3 linked regions of the Homo sapiens genome follow. The protein of the gene in region 3 purifies or fractionates together with the protein of the main gene of each other region. This does not show direct contact. Each region holds a gene or a part of one and is shown on either strand. Other genes may lie near its edges.

Region 1 (3,753 bases), on a different chromosome or scaffold from region 3:
TGTTCCTTGAGTCCAGTCGGGAAGGGCCCTTGTGACTGGGTCTCATGCCAAACAACTTGTTACGATAAGAGCTAGGGTCCCAGACCATGAGGAAACTTCATGAGAATCCTCTGTAGTCTGGTGAGTGTAGTGTCCGACTCTGGAGCCCAGGCTGTTGCTTCCCGGTGTGGTGGTGAATCCTCCACAGTCTGGTGAGTGTACCTATAAATATATCTTTTCCTTCTCCCCTTCCCATTGCAATTTGCTTATTATATCATTTGCTTATTATATCCGCGTTGCCATTTAATTGGGATAAAGGTTGTTTACCCTTAAAAGTATGGTGTGTGTGTCTTTTCTTCTCCCCTTGCGCCTTTCTCGCACAGAACAATAGGCTCGTCCATTACTTTCAGTCGTTACATTTCTTGGAAGTTTCGTAATCCGGTGCTGATTCTAGTGTTTGGATGCCCATACTAAGTTTCTGCTTTTCAAGATGTCAATTTAACATCTCACCTCGCAATCACGTTGTTCTAATTTTAACAATTATTTATTGAACCCTTAAGTTCTAGACACTGCAGAATGCTTTACCTAAGATTTTCCAATTTCGTTCTCAAAACTTCCCCGTGCGTTGGTCGCTATTAACTCCATTTGACAGATCTGGAAACTGGGGCCCAGAGAGGCTAGTCCAGGCCACTCAGCTAGTCACTCTTGGAGCGGGGCCTCTGATCTAGCTAGTGGTGTAATAGAAATTGTAAATCATTTCAAAGAATATATATATTTCCCGTAACACCCTAGAGTTTTCTCCTAGCCCAAGAATTGTCCTTTTTGACCTCTGGTGATTGTTTCTCCTTGAGCCAGATAAGCTGCAAACCTGTTGGAAGCAGTGAAGGGCCATAGGGAAGAGCAGCCTTTGGGGAGACAGCCACCTGAAATTCTGCTCCACAACCTCCGCTCCAGGAGAGCGGGCCGAACGCACCGCGGTCGCAGCTTTCCTGAGGACACGGGTCCCCATGTCACTAGCGACACCTGCGCTCCGGGCCCAAAGCACAATCACAAAGTGCGGGACCTTTGGGCGGTGCTGGGCGGCCTGGCCCCGCAGCCACTGGGCCGGTTGGTCCCGCAGGACTCTGCTCCGTGGAGCTTTTGTCCTTGGGCCGGGGCCCTGCGACCCGCGCTACCCAGGTCGAGCCCCGCCAGGAGGCTCCCTCCTCCCGCCATTCTCCAGAGAGTAGGGGGTCGGGAAGGAGAGAACGGCGGGGCGGGGCCTGCCACCCACAGTCCCCAACCCAAGGACGTCACGGTCCCAGGTGCGAGTGCGAGCGGGCGGGAGTCCACCCCGCGCCTCCCTCCTCTGCTGAACTCCCCACCTCTGTAAAAGCGGCCCGGGCCGGCCCCCGGCTCCATTTTCTCGCGGCGGCCACACCTGGAGCCGCGCCTTTGGGTTGGGCTGGGCTGGGCCGCGCAACCGCCACGGGAAGACAGCCCTCGGGGCGGGGAGGGAGAGGGTGGCCGGGCCGGGGGGAGGCCGGGGCCAGGGAGGAGCCGAGTGCGCGCTCGGGGCAGGCGGCGGCGCGGAGCGGTGCGGCGGCGGGAGGCGGAGGCGAGGGTGCGATGGCGCGGAGCCCGGGACGCGCGTACGCCCTGCTGCTTCTCCTGGTAAGTGCCGCAAGCGGGACAGGGGAGCCACCGCCGGGGAGGGCGTCGGTAGGCGAGGTCTAGACCTCGCGACCAGACTTGCCCGCCGCCCTTGTGCGCGTTACCTGCCCGGCGCTCCTTCCTGCTGCCCGAGGGGGGAAAAGGGCCGGGCAGGCTGCGGCGAGATCCGACCTGGGGCTTCGGAAAATCCTCTTGGCTGGAGCCAGGAGAGTAAGTTGCGACCTATCGAAGTTGTGTTTTCCTTCCCGCGTCACCCAGGCCCCAGCGCCCTTTTCTGTGGTGTGTGGGTGTAGTGAGCCCTGGGGCGGGGAACACCATTGCTGGGGGTCGGAGGCTTTGTTGAGAGTCTCTGGGACGAGAAACGTGGAGGCAATAGGGAACAACCTCGCGCTTCTTCCACGTTCCTTAAATTTCCCTAGGATTCCCCAGCTCCTCTAGCCGCCGACACAAGCCAGTGAACTGGGGAAACCAGGAACATACTTGTATTCTTAGAGTGCAAAAAGTTGGCTAAAAATTTTTTAAAAAGGTGTAATTTACAAAGCTTAATTTTAAGTGGATCACCCACATATAGTTTTAACTTAAAGTTTATGAAGTTGGTGTTTCAAAAGTTTTCCAATATTAAAGATAATAAACATATGTAATAGTTTGAAGCCTTATTCATTTAAAAGGTTACAGAAAATGGAAGTGTAGCGCCCCCTCCCCCACGCCCCACCCCTCACTCCCGGAAACGACGTTCAGTCCCTGGATTTAGAGTTCTTTTGCTCAAATTGGATTTTAAACTGTTGGTTTTCTGTTTGTTTAAGGGGTTGCACGTATGTATCTCGCTTATAGGGGTTTACTAAAGGGGTTTTAATAAAGTGACAGTTATGCTGCAAATATAGGTGTGAGTTCACCTTCCAGAGAGTTCACAAATATGTGTTTACAGAGATTAGATGCAAAATCATACTCAGTTTTCTTACGTAATAATTAAAAATGCAAATACATTCACTATATTCAAAGTTCTAACTTCCAAAACATGAGCCCTTCTATCCTCGAGTTTTGGTGGGATGTGGAAGAAAATCGTGTGTGTGTGTGTGTGTGTGTGTGTGTGTCTCAAAACGGAAAAAGGCGTGACTGAATCCAGTCTAGAGATTTCCATGAACTCTCAGGTGGAAGAGCATGATAATTAGGGCGTCCAGGCCTAGCACACAGTTCATTTTCATGCTCTATTTATCCATTTCATTTTCCCCGTGTCCTTGAGGTAACTTTCAATGAAAATTCATTTTGTTGACAAAACTTTTCTAAGACGTGATCTGGGACGTCGTTTTTAGCCTCTGGGCTGGCAAAACAACTAATCCTGTCACCTTGATGTTTCCTTGTTTAAGGAGAATCCCAAGCTAATGTAACACCTAGCTTACTTTGAGAGTTACATATTCTTTCCATATATGAAAATAAATGACCTTTAATCTTCAAATAATGTAGCAATCAGGCCAATTTGTACACTCACAGAGTAGCAGGTAAGCAAATTAGGCATATCTTTCATTTTAGCAATTTGATACTTTTACCTTATTGGGCAGTAATAAACATCTCCTTTAGAAAGCGACTATAGCCAATGGAACAGGAGCAAAATTCTTGGACTGTTCTATGTATTTTCTATAAAACTTTCTGCAGTATAAATTTGAATATGTTTATTTTTGTCCAGAGAGTAGTGGGCAATGCAGCATTTTACCCCCAGTGTGTTTGCAGTTGCAGTTTTTTGGTAAAAAAAAAAAAAAAAAAAAAAATGGAAAGCAACTCATCTGACAGAAGTAGTTGCCAAGGAAACAGGTCCTTTATTGGAAGGAATATAAATTGTAGTCTGTTAGATCAGAGTTCAGTTGCAAATAACGGAATTTACTCTAGCTATTTAAAGCAAGAATAGGTTTATTTCGGGGCACTAAACTGACTACCTAAGTGTAGGAAGGATTGAGAAGACTGCCATTTGAGCTGTCAGTAATGACTTCAAAGCCACACAGCAGAGCCACACCGCTTAGGGAGCTGCTGCCTCTCCTGTGACCAGGAACTGCACTGCCACTCCCACAGTCTGAAAAACTGCTGTGATCAGGGTGCTACTTTTGCTACCAGCTGCAGACCCATGCATGC
Region 2 (3,653 bases), on a different chromosome or scaffold from region 3:
AAAATAACCTAAATCATACCTGAAAATCATGAATGATGTGATGAACTGCATTAGAATCCAACAGATTAACCTGTTCAAATTTTGGTCTTGCTCTTCTGAAACCACAGCCAACTGCATGCCAATTATTCTGCTGAAATTCTTTGTGTACAGCTCTGCCAAGAAGCCCAGTGGCACCAGTAACCAGAACCCTCCTATTAGGGATGTTAACTTCCTCCTAAAAGGTGAAGGCGGATAGAAAGAGTTACTAACTTTGAAAACAGTTCTCTCAAATATATTAGGCACCATCGTTGTTCCCTAAATGTCTTAATTCTACGTATTTTGACTCATGTCCCATATCTGCAAGCCAATTCTAAAGTTAAGTTAGGGTCGGGCATCAGGCTCATGCCTGTAATTCCAACACTTTGGGAATGCGAGGCAGGCAGCTCCGCTGAGCCCAGGAACTTGAGACCAGCCTGGGTAACATAATGAGACCCATCTCAATACAAAAAAACAGTAAAAATATACTTTGTATTTATAAAAATAAATTTTTAAAATAAAAAAAGCAGAAAACACAACTTAAAAATGTAATAAATAAAGTTAGAACAATGATTAATCAAACCATATAAAAAACTGTATCACTTAAGAAAAAGCTTTTGCCAGGCATGGTGGCCCATGCCTTTAATCCCAGCACTTTGCGAGGCCAAGGCAGGTGGATCACTTGAGCCCAGGAGTTCGAGACCAGCCTAGGCAACATGGTGAAAACCCGTCCTTCCAAAAAAAAAAAAAAAAAAAAAAAAGCAAAAATTAGCTGAGCTACAGGTGGTGCATGCCTGTAGTCCTAGCTACTTGGGAGGCTGGGGTGGGAGGATCACGAGCCTGGGAGGCCAAGGCTGTAATAAGCAGAGATCATGACATGCACTCCAGTCTGGGGGACAGAGTGAGACCCTGTTTCAAAAAAAAAATTTTTTTAATTAAAAAAGTTATAATAATCTTACCCAAGGAAAGGAACACAAGATGATATGCAAGGAATTATGTAGATTTATATTTCCTATGTTAACAGAAAATCCTATTTTTATGATTGATAATACCCAAATGAGTTAGTAAACAGCAACTTTTTTTATACTTTTGCTCCAAGTACCTAAATAGTAAATAACAACATTACATTCTTCAGTTTATAAGACTTTACAATTTGTCTTGCTTCTATAGATACGACTGAAGGTGCTCTTTGAGTCTCTAGAGAGAAACGTGTTTTAAGTTTACCTATTTTAAGGCCTGATTAGTATTTGCGTCAAATCTGCCAATATATTTACAAGCTGACATTTCTGGTCTTCAGATTTTAATCCCAAATGTTCTTTCAAGTCTCAATAATTTATCATATTTTGATGGACCCAAGGTAGAGAATTAATCAACATTTCAAAGGAATATACGAGGAGGAAAAAAAACTTGGTCCTTACAACACTTAAATGCTTTCTAAGTTTAACCAAATTGGTAAATGTTCCTTAGTTAACCCAAAATTTACCTACATAGAAGAGTTAAAATTGGCCAGGTGCAGTGGTTCATGCCTGTAATCGCAGCACTTTGGGAGGCCAAGCTGGGCAGATCACCTGAGGTCAGGAGTTCAAGACCAGCCTGGCCAACATGGTGAAACCCCATCTCTTCTAAAAATACAAAAAAATTAGCCAGGCGTGGTTGCAGGTGCCTGTAATCCCAGCTACTCGGGAGGCGAGGCGGGAGAATTGCTTGAACCCAGGAGGCGGAGGTTGCAATGAGCCAAGATGGCACCACTGCACTCCAGCCTGGGTAACAAGAGCAAGACTACATCTCAAAAAAAAAAAAAAAAAAGCTAAAACTAATAAACGCAAAGGATAAGAAAAAATATTTTAAGCTCATCTGTGTTGCTACTGTGAAACAAATAAATTATTACACACAGAAATGAAAAAGAACCACTATTTAGGAAAAAATTTAAATTCTATGTTTCCAAGCATAGTTCCAAAAATGTCCCTTCTTCCCAAGATGGGTAACACCAAGTTTCCAACCAGGATCTTGAATAAAGTCAACTTTTACTATTAAAAACAAACCAGTTATTTTAACTCAAGAGTTGTTATAATCACCTAATTCTGGGCTGTCAAAATCTTTAAATACATATACAATAACCAAAGACCTTTTAAAGCCCTTAGCTCAATTAAATTACTTAGCCGAATACATACATTTTTTTTTAAAAGACACCAAAATCAAGTATTTCTAGCAATCAAAAACGTAAAATGAAAAGACTAACAGGGAAAGATAGTATAAAGGTAAATTCTTAGGATTATTTTTCCTTAGTTCAACCAATTTCAAGACATTTTAAAAGTTGAAAGCAATTTCATTCAGGCTGTGTTGCAAAACTTGGCTCTAAACCAACTGATCTATGAAAACAAGGATTTCAGCCAACAAAATATTTTCTTTGAAATTTGGCAAGAAAACAGCTCTACAAAGATTGAACTGTAAAGAGGAGAAAACATGCCAAGTCTAGTACAGATACAGTCAGAGAAAACAATTTACACAGGATAAATACGGTAAAGATTCCTGAAAAAATACTCTAAAAGAGAGATAATTTGGTTTCTTCTGAGTTCCTCACTTTTTACTTCACTCTACGGAAGCAAAGGAACAGGTAACAGTTCCTAAGGTCAGTGGTTCTCGTGCTTCAGTGTGGATCAGAATCACCTGGAGGGCTTTTAGATCACAAAGGTCTGGGGTGGGGCTTGATAATTTGCATTCCCAACAAGTTCCAACAAGTGATGCTGATCATCGTGATTTGGAGACCGCACTTAGAGGACCAGTGTACTCTCGAACTCCAGGAAAGTTCAAAGCTTTCATAACAATCCGTTTCTCTTACACAAGGAAAACAAAAAGTGCCATCTACCTTTCTCAAAATGACAACAGTATCTTTCCCCCTTAAAAAAGAAAACTTGAAATAGAAGCCAAAGCATTATACAATCCACAAAAGTTACTAAACAATGAATTAAGATCTGTGTACTTCACTGACTCTGTGAAGTACAGTTTCATTTTAACATCTGTTAAATGAATTTAAAAAAAATCTTATGAATCGTCACAGTTTTGCAGTAGTTTTTGCTAACTTAATGCAACTTAAGAGCCCAGATGATCTTCTTTTAATTAAGAGCTTCTTGGAGTTGATGCAGTATTAAGTATAGAGAAGAACAAGGCTCTTTAGGGAATATAATACCTTAACGTAAAAAAGGAAGTGGAGTTGTATGAGAAAATGCAACTTTATATCCTTATACCCCTGGGTTACTATGTAAGGCCTCCAGTACGCCCGGCCTATAACATGTTAATTTTCAAATAAAATGTTGTGCAGTATCATTTCCATTTCAGTAAATGCTTGCACTTCAGATCGTCACTCTTAATAAAAATCTTGAGCACTGACACCTGACTGCTGGGTACTGTACACTGTTTCATATTTTTTTCTAGGTAATTTTAGGTAATCTAAGCTACTCGGGAGGCTGAGGCAGGAGAATCGCTCGAACCCAGGAGGCGGAGGTCGTAGTGAGCCGAGATCGCACAACTGCACTCCAGCCTGGGGGACACGAGCTAGACTTCATCTCAAAAAAACAAACAAACAAAAAAACCAAAAAAAAGAAAACTAACGTGTTATATAAGTATACAATCATAGCTGT
Region 3 (3,653 bases):
CAACTATATCTGACACCCAGAGACTGTAATGCACCTTACCTAATCCCGTGTCATGCCTGTGCTGAGGTTTACTCTGAGTAATGCAGAAATCTCACAGTCCTCACGGGACATTAGCAACTCCTCTAATTAAAGCTAGCAAGGCAAGAGAACATTGTTCCCTGTGGATCTTACCAGCGTGTCCTTGCTGGTGTAGTGGACCATCCATCCTTCTTTCATGACTGTGCTGCTTTTCCTCTTCGTGTGTTTGACAGACTGCACTACCCTCATGAGTGGGATATTGTTGCTTGTTGATGGACTTGAGAAGTCAAAATATTGTAGGGAAAAAATGTTTTCAGGTACATTTTATGTATTTTCATGCATAAAACCTTATGTCAGCTAATCCAAGTGAAACTTTACAAAATTCACATCTCATGTTTAGTAAAACGTATTGTCAGGCACCATGGTTCTGAAAGTGGGTTACTCTGAAGAGTGATAGGCACGTTGTTTGTACACCTTAAAAAATCCTGGCCGGGTGCAGTGACTCACATCTGTAATCCCAGCACTTTGGGAGGCCGAGGCGGGTGGATCACGAGGTCAGGAGTTCAAGACCAGCCTGGCCAAGATGGTGAAACCCCGTCTCTACTAAAAGTACAAAAAAAATCAGCTGGGCATGTTGGCGGGCACCTGTAATCCCAGCTACTTGGGAAGCTGAGGCAGAGAATTGCTTGAACTCGGGAGGCAGAGGTTGCAATGAGCCAAGATTGTACCACTGCACTCCAGCCTGGGTGACAGAGCAAGACTCCATCTGAAAAAAAAAAAAATTCCCAAGGCTGGGTAATAAGCACCTCATATTTTGGGTTGAACTGTATGGTGTTCAGTTTTCAGGTAAACCTGAGGTAGAGTACTTCTTAGTCTACTGAGGCCACACTATTCAGACTCACACATGAAAGCTTATTTGCTTATTTATTTCCTATTATAGGTACATTATCAATCATTTAGAGATTACATTATTCAACATGAATTTTTAGTTTCTCTGCATAATGTCATAAAAATTGGAATCTGCTAGTCTCTGTTTCTTCCTCTCTTCATCCCTCCCTCCTTGTCCCCCTTCCCACAACATGAATATATATGTAATTCCCACCACTGCCCCCCGGCACCATGCAAACTCTTTGGTACTAAAGAAGTGTATGTCTTCAAAAGACAGGTCACAAGACAATTATTTCCCACTATTTAAAAAATGTTCATTATGCCATTAAATGGAAAAAAACAATCATTTTATTGCTCTACTCTCATGAACAATTTGTTTGTCAATAAACATGGCATTCGTAAAATGGACACAAAAGTTTCAATAGGCTTTATAATATAAATCAGAGACTAGGAAACATTTTCTGTAAAGGGCCAGGTAATAAATATTTTAGTTTTTGCAAAAGACCTAACTTTACCAATATAGTGCAAAAGCAGCCACAGACAATATGAATGGACAGGCTATGTTCCAATAAAACTTTACTACAAATTGGGCAGCAGTCCAATTTGCTCTGGTGGCCACATTGTGCTGACTCCTGATATAAAAAGTGGGGATCATCCAGTAACCAAAAGCATAATTAAATAACAGATATAAAATTGCACATACTTCTGAAATAATATCAAGAACAGTGAAGTGTACACAGACTATGATATTTGTAACAGGGGCCAGCTAATAAAATAGATGATTTCTGCTGAGTTTGATCTTGATTTTTGTTGTTTCTACACAATGAGCTTCAAATTAATATTAACTTAGTAATAAACTTGTGGATGGCAAACATGAGCATCTCTCACATGCAAAAAAAAAAAAAAAATAGTTCAATGAATGAGGTGATGCTGGGAAAGAATGGCAACCACACTTCTCCCAGGGAACCCAGACCTCCTAACTTCAAAGGCTCTCATTTACAGCACGCAGTTCATTCATATAAAAGTAAACGTGCACTTCACATTTCTACTATAATCTATTAAAATATCAAAGAGGTTTAAAGAGAAAATACTGCCTGGGGTTCCCCTGTTGGCTGAGGCTGGGAGTGCTGCTCTCACCTGATGGTTCTGTTGGCGTCCTCGTGGTCTGGGTCTGGATCTTGCATCTCGCCACTGTCGTTCTGGCACTCTGCCATTGCCATCTCTGCATCTTGGACCATTGCTTCTTCCATATCATCCATGAGCCCACTGTTCCTTTCACTATCATTGTCATCACTCCCTTCTTCCATGACCACATCAGACTCTGCCCCAGGGCTAAGCAAATCTAGAAAATTATTTTCACCCATGAAGATAAGCCTGGAATCTTGGAGCCAGGGCTTAAGAGACAGTCAGGTGATCCTAAAACAAATCAATTGGAAGCCCCAAAGAGGTAGTTCTGTGATGAGTTTATTTTTTATTTTTTAACTTTTATTTTAAGTTTAGGAGTATATGTGCAGGTTTATTACATAGGTAAACTTGTGTCATGGGGGTTTGTTGTACAGATTATTTCATCACCCAGGTATTAAGCCTGGTACCCATTAGTTATTTTTCCTGATCCTCCCACCCTCCAACCTTGAAGGGACCCCGTATGTGTTATTCCCCACTATGTGACCATGTGTTCTCATCATTTACCTCCCACTTATAAGTGAGAACATGTGGTATTTGCTTTTCTGTTCCTGTGTTAGTTTGCTAAAGATAATGGCCTCCAGATCCTTCCATGATTTTCAATTTCCTTTTTTATTTCAGTTTATATGCATCTGAGTTTATGAGAGGTTGAACATGTAATTTTATAGGTAGATGCTCGTTTTCCGTTTTCCCAAGCCTGAAAACATGAAAAGTCATGAAAAACCTTGGAAGGAAGCCAAAGCTGGGATAGAAGTAAAATGCTAGAAGGCAAAGTGATACCAGGCCCAAGTGACTGGGAAGCTGCTCATATTTTAGAAGCACAGCCCTGGTGGGAAAAAAAAGTATGTAAGAGGATGACAGAAATTTTCACATGAAAAAAGATTCAAGCCACTGATTCTTACTATTGGAGTAACTTTGAAAATCACGAATTCCAATATATTAAATTGGTCACATAGCTGCAGCTTTTAAATAAGACATTTGATATTTGAAGTAATATTGAACCTGTCATTATACAGTTGATGGTAATGGCAAAAATTAAAATTACTTACTAATGCAAAGTACTCATTTTAAAATGAAAATACAGATTAATGAGAGACTCTAGCCTGCCAAGCTTGGAAAATTCACATTTTACCAGATTTTTCTGAATGTATAAGAAAATAGAATTTCAAAGTAATCAACAACATCAAAAACTGTTCTGTATCCCCTTAGTTATAGTTATCCAGTACACACTGACATTCCCTGAGCCTGAACAAAGTCAACACCACATGCCACAGAAAGTGGGACGATCGCCAAGCTTTCAATTTTGGCAGCTAATTCATGAATCTCCAAGCCAGAAACAAGTGTGACAATGTTTTCCTGGAGAGCTCTTCCTTCTTCTTCTTTTAGGTACAGTATATATTTCTTCTAGAGAAGAAAGTTCTAGAGCAAAGATAGTCATTCTTCAGCTTCTTAGCAACAAAAATATTCAACTGAAAGTATCTGTGATCTTTTACAGCCATTTTCCTTTCCAGAGGAATTGGAAAACTGGTATCAGGCTAAAGGTATAAAGACCACTATCTGCAGAA

Evidence for each region.
Region 1: the proteins of PRKD1 (region 3) and DSG2 purify together in Homo sapiens (affinity purification with mass spectrometry; one large-scale study listed by BioGRID and IntAct). This does not show direct contact.
Region 2: the proteins of PRKD1 (region 3) and MAT2B purify together in Homo sapiens (affinity purification with mass spectrometry; one large-scale study listed by BioGRID and IntAct). This does not show direct contact.

The regions. Positions count from the first base shown.
Region 1 is NC_000018.10:31,496,665-31,500,417, forward strand, and holds the start of DSG2 (desmoglein-2 preproprotein), read left to right. Parts: upstream 1-1,512; 5' UTR 1,513-1,587; coding exon 1,588-1,632; intron 1,633-3,753.
Region 2 is NC_000005.10:163,508,563-163,512,215, reverse strand, and holds part of MAT2B (methionine adenosyltransferase 2 subunit beta), read right to left. Parts: intron 215-3,653; coding exon 20-214; intron 1-19.
Region 3 is NC_000014.9:29,634,247-29,637,899, forward strand, and holds part of PRKD1 (serine/threonine-protein kinase D1), read right to left. Parts: intron 2,249-3,653; coding exon 2,044-2,248; intron 296-2,043; coding exon 172-295; intron 1-171.